Linked DNA regions of Homo sapiens: region 1 is linked to region 2. The links come from fine-mapping of genetic effects on gene expression. A gene starts in region 2. The other region holds a variant in brackets. All regions are shown on one strand. Distances are from middle to middle.

Region 1 (4,399 bases), 38 kb before region 2:
ATAGGAACACTTTTACACTGTTGGTGGGACTGTAAATTAGTTCAGCCATTGTGGGAGAGAGTGTGGTGATTCCTCAAGGATCTAGAACTAGAAATACCATTTGACCCAGCCATCCCATTACTGGGTATATACTCAAAGGATTATAAATAATTCTACTATAAAGACACATGCACACATATGTTTATTGCAGCACTGTTCTTAATAGCAAAGACTTAGAACCAACCCAAATGCCCATCAATGATAGACTGGATAAAGAAAATGTGGCACATATACACCATGGAATACTGTGCAGCCATAATAAAGGATGAGTTCATGTACTTTGCAGGGATGTGGATGAAGCTGGAAACTGTCATTCTCAGCAAACTAACACAGGAACAGAAAATCAAATACTGCATGTTCTTACTCATAAGTGGGAGCTGAACAATGAGAACACATGGACACAGGAAGGGGAACATCACACACTGGGTCTGTCAAGGGGTGGAGAGCTAGGGGAGGGATAGCATTAGGAAAAATTCCTAATGTAAATGACGGGTTGGTGGGTGCTGCAAACCACCATGGCACATGTATACCTATGTAACAAACCTGCACATTCTGCACATGTATCCCAGAACTTAAAGTATAATTTTAAAAATGCGCTAAGTTCTATGAAACTATCAGACATCCGTTAATAGTCTTATAGCATCATTTCAAAGGCCAATTCAGTAAAACCAGTTCTACAGAATAGGGTACACGTAATCTCAAGATAGCCTGTTAATCTGACTTAATCCATGAATGTATTTTAGAGAAATGGGTGGGCTGTATCTCTTTCAGACAGAACATACATAAAAATTGCTTCTCTGAGTGATGTTTTTGACAAAGTTCATTGCCATAGCTACCCTGGGCATTTATTTATAGTGTATCTACTCTAAATTGCTTCATGTCTTAATAGAATTACTGTACTGAGCAGAGTCTATATTATCCTATGAAAAACTGAGCAACCTGTTAAGAAAATCTGCCTAGAGGAAAAGCCATCCTCTCTGTGCTCAGAGGTGTGCCAGATACATTTGTTCAATTGCTAGCATGATCTTTCAACTGTCATTAAGCTAGCTGATATACTGAAGAACTACTGTAATCTGATAATGAATCCACCTCATACAGTTATCTCTGCATGTTAAGATGCTAAGAACAATATATGCAATATGTTAGCCATTATTATTGCTCATTCAACCAATGTTTATTATATACTTACCATGTGTCAATACTATAAATATTGCTTAGCCTCAAATAAAGTCAGTCCCTGCTCTCAAATGAGAGTCCCTCCCTCTCAAGAGAGGTGAGCCTGGTTATATAATGAATCAGTTACTAGGCTGGGAATTGTGTGATGTAAGCTATACCTGCTTAAAAGAAGAAGAACCTAAGTGGGAGTGACAAGGAAGGCTTCTCTGAAAAGGTAACATTCTGAGCTGATGGGTGAAGAAGGATTAGGAGTTTGCTGCAAGAGGCAGGGGAAAGGAGGAGCTGAGAGATTAAGAAGGTAGGATGGTGACATGGTTTGGCTCTGTGTCCCCACCCAAATCTCACTCTGAATTGTAATAATCCCCACATGTCAAGGGTGGGACCAGGTAGACATAACTGAATCCTGAAGACAGTTTTCCCCATGCTGTTCTCATGATAGTGAGTGAGTTCTCACAAGATCTGATAGTTTTATAAGGGGCTTACCCCTTCACTTGGAACACATTCTCTTTCCTGCTGCCCTGTGAAGAGGTGCCTTCCACCATGATTCTAAGTTTCCTGAGGCCTCCCTAG[C/T]CATGTGGAAACTGTGAGTCAATTAAACCTCTTTTCTTTATAAATTACCCAGTCTCAGGTATTTCTTCATAGCAGAGTGAGAACGGACTAATACAGATGGAGAAGGAAGACAGCCAAGGCATATGGGTCAGTATGAGTAAAGGACAAGGGCCCAAACAACATGTAGAATTTGGGAACCTATAATGCCTTATTTAGTAAGACTGTGTACTATAAAGTATGAGAAGAAGGTTGATGGGAACTCAAGCTGTAAAGGAAGGCACATGTTTAATGAGCATCTATTATATGCAGGAACACAATAAAAGCAGCACCAAATCAGTTCTTAAAGGACATGAGATAAAAAGCTCTAACAAGACTGAAGAGTCCTCACAAAACAAATATTGACATTGAACAAATGCTGCCAAAATAGTCAAGTTCTCATCCTTTATTTCCAACACTACCTGACCTTAAAAAATGGTAATTATCTCTTTTCAGACTAAGATTCAGCTTGTGAATAAATATTTCTTTCTATCTCAAACTAATGTGTATTTACTGACTTAAATATTAAAAATGCTCTGGGACTACTAAAAGAAGAGTACCATAATTCAGCTCAACAAGCATGAAGCACCAGCTACGGACCAGACTCTTCTGGTCCAAGTGGGGAAGTCAGATTGTTTAATGTTACGTTAATGGAGGAAATCCCATCTCTACTAAAAGTACAAAATTAGCCAGGTGTGGTGGCATATGCCTGTAATCTCAGCTCCTTGGAAGGCTGAGGCAGGAGAATCGCTTGAACCCAGGAGGCACAGGTTGCGGTGAGCCAAGATGGCACCATTGCACTCCAGCCTGGGCAACAAGAGCAAAACTCCGTCTCAAAAAAAAAAAAAAAAAAAAAGGCCCGCGATGCCCTGCTCTCTCTCTCTGCTACATTGGTATATTACCTTCATTTTAGAATCTATTTATTAGTGTTTGTCCTCTCACTAGATTGGATTAAACAAAGTTTTAAGGCACAGAGAGGAGGAAATGATTACAGAGAAAACATCTCAAAGGAAGTAAGCAAAACATCACAGCAAAATTCCAACAACAATATAACTCAGCCATAGACATATGAAAGCTGTATGGTAAGTTTAGGGAAACATGGAACAGTTCAATGGAAATTAAAGCATGGAAATAATAAATGGAATAGTAAAAAAATTTAAGCTCAGCTAACAACGAGGACTGTTCTATTTCCATCACTATCATATCCCTAGGACGAAGCATATATAAGGTACACAATAAATATTTATTGAATAAATAAATTAATTAACAATGGCCAGAGACAAGTCTGTTTAGAATGCCATAGTGAGTTCTGGCTTTTATTCCAAAGAGTGACAGGAAATGATCTAAGATTTTTAGCTGGGGAGTGTCGTGAGCAGACATATATGTTCTTAGAAAGATAATTCTGGTGAAAATGTGAATACAAAATACAGGGGGAAGAGACTGGTAGTAAAGAAATATACCATGATTATAGCAAGCCAGACAAGCAATGAAATGATGAGAAGCCCCATTATAATAAAGACAATGGAAAAGGCCAGTGGAGGACAAATTCAAAAAGCAATCATGGCTGGGTGTAGTGGCTCATGCCTGTAATCCCAGCACTTTGGGAGGCTGAGGCAGGAGGATTTCTTGAGGTCAGGAGTTCCAGACCAGCCTGGGCAACATAGCAAGACCTCATCTCTACAAAAAAATTTTAAAAATTAGCCAGGCGCTGTGGCACCTGCTTGTAGTCCCAGCTACTTGGGAGGCTAAGGTGGGAGGATCGCTTGAGTCTGGGAGATTAAGGCTGCAATAAGCTGTGATTGCACCACTGCAATCCAGCTTGGGCAACAGACTGAAGTCCTGTCTCAAAAAAAAAAAAAAAAGCAGTTATACTCTGCTGAGAAAAGGCCACTGGACTTGGGAAGTGCTCATAGTCTGTGTTAGTCCCATTAATCTTATACAGTATCTACAATAAAAGAATAAACGTGTGCTTATGAGAGGGGTTAGGGATGGCACTGATAAAGATCTATGGGAGAGCAAAAAAGCTATAGTCCTGTGGTGTCTAATATGTAGCCACTAGCCATATACAGCTACTAATTTTTAAAATTTAGTTTCTCAGTCACAGTGGGATATTCCAAGGGTTCAATATCTACATGTGGATACTGGATAGTGCATATTTACAGAACATTTACATCACTGCAGAAAGTTCCACAGGACAGCGCTGCTATAGACAAATAGGACTTATCTGGGAGATAAAATGTATGTCTCATGGTGAATCCAAGTCTTTGTTTACTTTTCTCTGGATGGACACCAGAAAGCAGGAATACAGTTCCCTGAGCCACCAACTGTATTAGTTATGTTCAGCAACAGGATTGACAAGGAAGTACTTACTTGCTCATGGCTTCCACACCTGCTTTGGCAGAAGCACTTGGTACTACAAAACCTGAACCAGTCTCAGCATAGATAGTAGTAATAGAAAGAAATGCTGCTCCTGAAATTTTAAAAGGATACAGTTGATTAGCAATATAGATGTATCACTACACATAAGGAAAACATTATTTATAAAAATGGGATCTGATTAAAGAGGGTATAAGAAAAACTAAAGTATTTTTTAAAACTT
Region 2 (4,399 bases):
TATAACAAATTAAACATTTGCCTTGGTTCTTGGTAACAAAAATATTCAAATTAGGGGTTTTAATTATAACAACTTGTATTTGCCCACAAAAACATGATGTTCCCTGGAACAACCTCCCACATCACAGATGTAAAGACTTTTCTTCTCCCAGGAATTCAAACTTGAGGCTACATGTGCTAGGAAGGGGACAAACCACACTAACAGGTACCTCTCTTGCCTCCCAACCCTGAACCTCAAAACTTCCATATTTTTCTTCAGCAAAGGAATTTCAAAATTGTCAGATTACAATTAATTTTTAAATGAGTTCATTTTCTCCTTCTCAAACTGTATTGTCTAATGGTGTCAGAAGAGCTTGGATAAGGTCTGTATGACCTTATTGCTACAATCCTAATGATGTGTGTTAAAAAATGAAATCTCTGAAGACATCACAGAGCTGTTGTAGATTTCAAATGAGAAATGTCTCTGAAAAGTATCAGAAAATATGGGCTTCCTTTATAATGATCTATAACCCAGTTTTCACAGGGAGAGAAAAAAAATCAGCAAAACCCTAACCCTGAACAAATCTCACTTTTTAAAAGAAAGATACCTTACTTGAGGGAACCACCATACTAATTCTTTGTATTCCTATTTGGAACTACTGCTGCCCATATTTTTTGAAAAACAACACCATGGCTGTCTATTCTATCAAATCAAAAGAAGTTTTTTCACAGTTGACATATTAATTTTTCTACCTGGCTAAAGAAAATGTGCTTTTTAGTTTACTTATAACAATTTTGTAATTTAGATGTGGGGAGGGCTTGTCTTGGATATTATTGCTTCTTTTTGTTTTTGTTTCTCTTTCTTCTTCCTAGCTGTTTTCACTTCCTAGCTATTTCCACTATGGGTGCAATGGAGATGGTGACAGGAGTGTGGGCCAGAGAGAGGGGGAAGCCAGTGTGAGACGGACCTCTCCCAGCTATACATCTGGGAAGGGGAGTCTATAAACAGCTGGGGTTTTGTTTTTGTTTCATTTTTATGATAATTTGTTTGTATTAGTGTTTAATTCCATAACTAACACATAGATGGACTTTCCTCACAACAAAGGACGTCAAAGGTCAGTGCTCGCTCGGCCTGATCCCCTCTCACTCCTTAAGGGGTGGACGGGCGCCGTATCCTTCCCTACCTCTTTCTACCTATTTACACACAAGTTGGAAACTTGCAGAACTGTGAAAACTTCGAAAATCACGTCTCTTCCCTATTCCCCTACACACATCAGGGCTTCATCTGACAGTGGAATACGACCCGGGCCCCGGTGCTCACTCCCGGCGTTGCCCTTCGCTCCGGGACCTGGTGGTCCTCTCTCTCTGCGCCCCAAAACGCCCTGTCCTAGCTCCCTGAGCCCCAGGGACGCCGGGTCCTCTCTTTGTGCCCCAAGACTTCCTGCCCTTTCTCTTGCGCCCCGAGACGTCCTGTCCTCTCTCTCGCTCCCCGGGTTGCTCTGTGCTCTCTTAGCGCTCCAGAACGCCCTGTCCTCTCTCTTTGAGCCCCGGGACACCCTGTCCTCGCTCCCCGAGGCCCCGGGACGCCCTGTCCTCTCTCTCTCTGCGCCTCGGGATGCCCTGTCCTCGCTCCCCGAACCCCCGGGACGCCCTGTCCTCTCTCTTTGCGCCCCAGGATGCCTTGTCCTCGCTCCCCGAGCCCCCGTGACGCCCTGTCCTCTCTCTTTGCGCGTCGAGACGCCCTGTCCTCGCTCCCCGCGCCCCCGGCCGCCTTACCCTCCGAGGAGCGAGGCCACAGGGCAGCCGGGACCCCAGAGTAAAGAAAACCCTGGCCGGTAGCTTCATGTTGAGTCTCCAGAACTCGGGCCGGAAGGCGGCGCAGGCGGTTGGGCGCAGGGGGCGGGACAAAAAGAACAAAGTTCTCGGGGCTGGAAACGCTGCCTAGGCCGCCGGGGGATGGGACGGGGACTGGGACCCAGGCGGCGTGGACGCCCAGCGGCCCTGACCTTCAGAGTCCGGCCGAGGGCGCCGCCTAGCTGGGCCTAGCTGATGCTCTTTCCTGCTCTCTGGGCCAGGAGTGCTTTGTATGGCAGAGAATGGAGGTTCTTTGCGTCCTTGAGCGGGTGTACGAAACCCCGCGCCCTGCAAGGGTTTGCAGATTGCAGCTGCGCACCCCATACACTGCCTATCAAGGGCGAAACTCTTTTTCAGTCGTATGTGTTTATCCCTTAAGTGCGTGTTTAAGTGCAGAGTGCGCGTGGCGCCAAGTCACATATTATCAGAATAATAATATGTTGGATGTAAAACACGGCCTCACTTTCCCTAAGACCAAGAGGCTGAAAAACACTAAGGGCAGCTTCCGGCGTTTTGACTTTTCGCAGGACACACCGCCCCCTGTCGCCGGATGCAGCGTGACTGCGACCGCCCAGCCTTGGCTTTTTTCTCGAAGTTAAACACACGTTAAAGGCAAACACAGATTCAGTATATCATTCTCCATCTTAGTGTAATATACCTGTTGACACAAGGCATTAGCTCAGATCACATTTCTTTCCTCATTCGTAAAATGAGAATATTCATAGCTAATTCAGAATTTTAGATAAAAGAAGATGGGTGTGAGGCCCCAGGCTGAGGCTGATGGTAGATGATATTGAGTGTTTACTATTTGCCTGGCATGTTCCAAATGCTGATAAAGAAACATTTATATCTTCAGAGGAATGTACACTTACATGTAGACATATAGCTTATAAGGTATATAAACTCTGAAAAACTTTGTAATTTTGAGTTGGTCTGGTGATAATTTCCAGGCCTTCTGCCTGTAACTGGTTACAGAAATAAAAACTTTCTTCATCCCCAGTTCATCGACATCTCATTATTGGCAGCAAGAAATAGCAGCCTGACCCTCAGTTTGGTCCAGGAACAAAACTACCACAGATTGGGTGGCTTAAATGGAAATTTGTTTTCTCACAATTCTGGAGGCCACAAGTCAGCAGAGTTGGTTTCTTGTGGAGCCACTGTGGGACCATCTTCTCCCTGTGTCTTTACATGATCCTCCTGTGTACCTTTCCATATCTAAATTGCCTCTTCTTATGAGGACACCAGTCGTGTTGGATTAAGGCCCACCCTCAATGACCTAATTTAACTGGAATTACCTCCCTAAAGACTCTATCTCCAAATATAGCCACATTCTGACATACTGGGGGTTAAGAGTTCAATGTATATATTTGGCTGGGAGAAGAGGGAAGTACACAATTCAGCCCAGAACACTTGCCCTCTTAAATAACTTTTAGACCAGCTTAGGAGGCATTTTCTGTCCTCCCAAAAAAACCTTGAGAATATATCAATAATAAAACTTTTCCTAAGCTCTTGATATATGTATGGCACTGTTATTCTTGACTTCCAAACCAAATTGTAAGTGGGATTCATCTTGTTTCTAAAAAGAAGTTGCAACATTAGTGATACGGTTTGGATTTGTGTCCCTACCCAAATCTCATGTTGAATTGTAATCTCCAGTGTTGGAATTGGGGCCTGGTAGGAGGTGATTGGATCACGGGGACAGATTTCTTCCTTTGGTGCTATTCTCCTGATAGAGTTCTCAGGAGATCTGGTTGTTTAAAAGTGTGTGGCACCTCCCACCCTCTCTCTTCCTCCTGCTCCAGCTGTGTAAGACAGCCTGCTTCCCCTTCATCTTCCACCATGATTGTAAGTTTCCTGAGGCCTCTCAAGTCATGCTTCCTATATAGCCTGCAGAACTGTGAGTCAATTAAACTTCGTTTCTTTATAAATTACTCAGTATGAGGTATTTCTTTATAGCATTGTGAGAATGGAGTAACACAATAAGTAACTTAAAACAATTAATCATTTATTATCTCACAGTTCCCAGGAGTTAGGAGTCTAGGCACAGCTTAGCTGGATCCTTGGCTCTGGGTCTCAGAAGACTGCAATCAAGGTGTCAACTAGGCTGTTTTTATCTGGAGGCTCAGCTGGAGAAGATCTGATCCCAAGCTCATCCAGATTGTTTGCAGAATTATTTTCCTCATAACCATATAACTGACAGCCCCACATTTTTGCTGGATGTTGGCTGGAGTTGCCTTCAGCTTCTAGAAGTCACCTCCATCCCTTCCCATGTGGGCTTCCTCAGCAGACTGCTTACTACATCAAGCCAGCAAGGACAATTCTGTACCTCAGGGAGGCCCCAGCCCATCTTTTAAGGACAATCACCAGATTAAGTGAGGCCCACTGAAAATAGTCTTAACCCCTTTTTGATTAACTAAAATCAACTGACTTGGGACTGCAAACCAAAAAGTGACTGAGGCAGATCTCTGTGGGTTAGCGATCATTTAGCCAAGGTTGAGAACATGTCTGGGAAAAAAATGCAACTCACAAGAGCATCTGTAACCTATGCTTTTTCCAAAGGGGGTTTT

What was found. PIP is the estimated chance that this variant, and not a neighbour inherited with it, causes the effect. A credible set is the group of variants that fine-mapping cannot tell apart.
Region 1: its variant is the best candidate, but not a certain one, in a credible set for the expression of DECR1 in whole blood (TOPMed, PIP 0.71).

Annotation. Positions count from the first base shown.
Region 1 is chr8:90,036,712-90,041,110 of GRCh38, reverse strand. DECR1 (2,4-dienoyl-CoA reductase 1) reads right to left here. Exons shown (of 10, transcript NM_001359.2): 6 at 4,171-4,270. Among named protein-coding and RNA genes, the nearest start is that of DECR1, 37 kb to the right of the region's middle. The variant C/T (reference allele first, on the strand shown) is at 1,786.
Region 2 is chr8:89,998,917-90,003,315 of GRCh38, reverse strand. DECR1 (2,4-dienoyl-CoA reductase 1) reads right to left here and starts at 1,839. Exons shown (of 10, transcript NM_001359.2): 1 at 1,755-1,839. The coding sequence starts at 1,823. RefSeq lists enhancers at 1,213-1,352, 2,201-2,495 and a silencer at 1,823-1,922.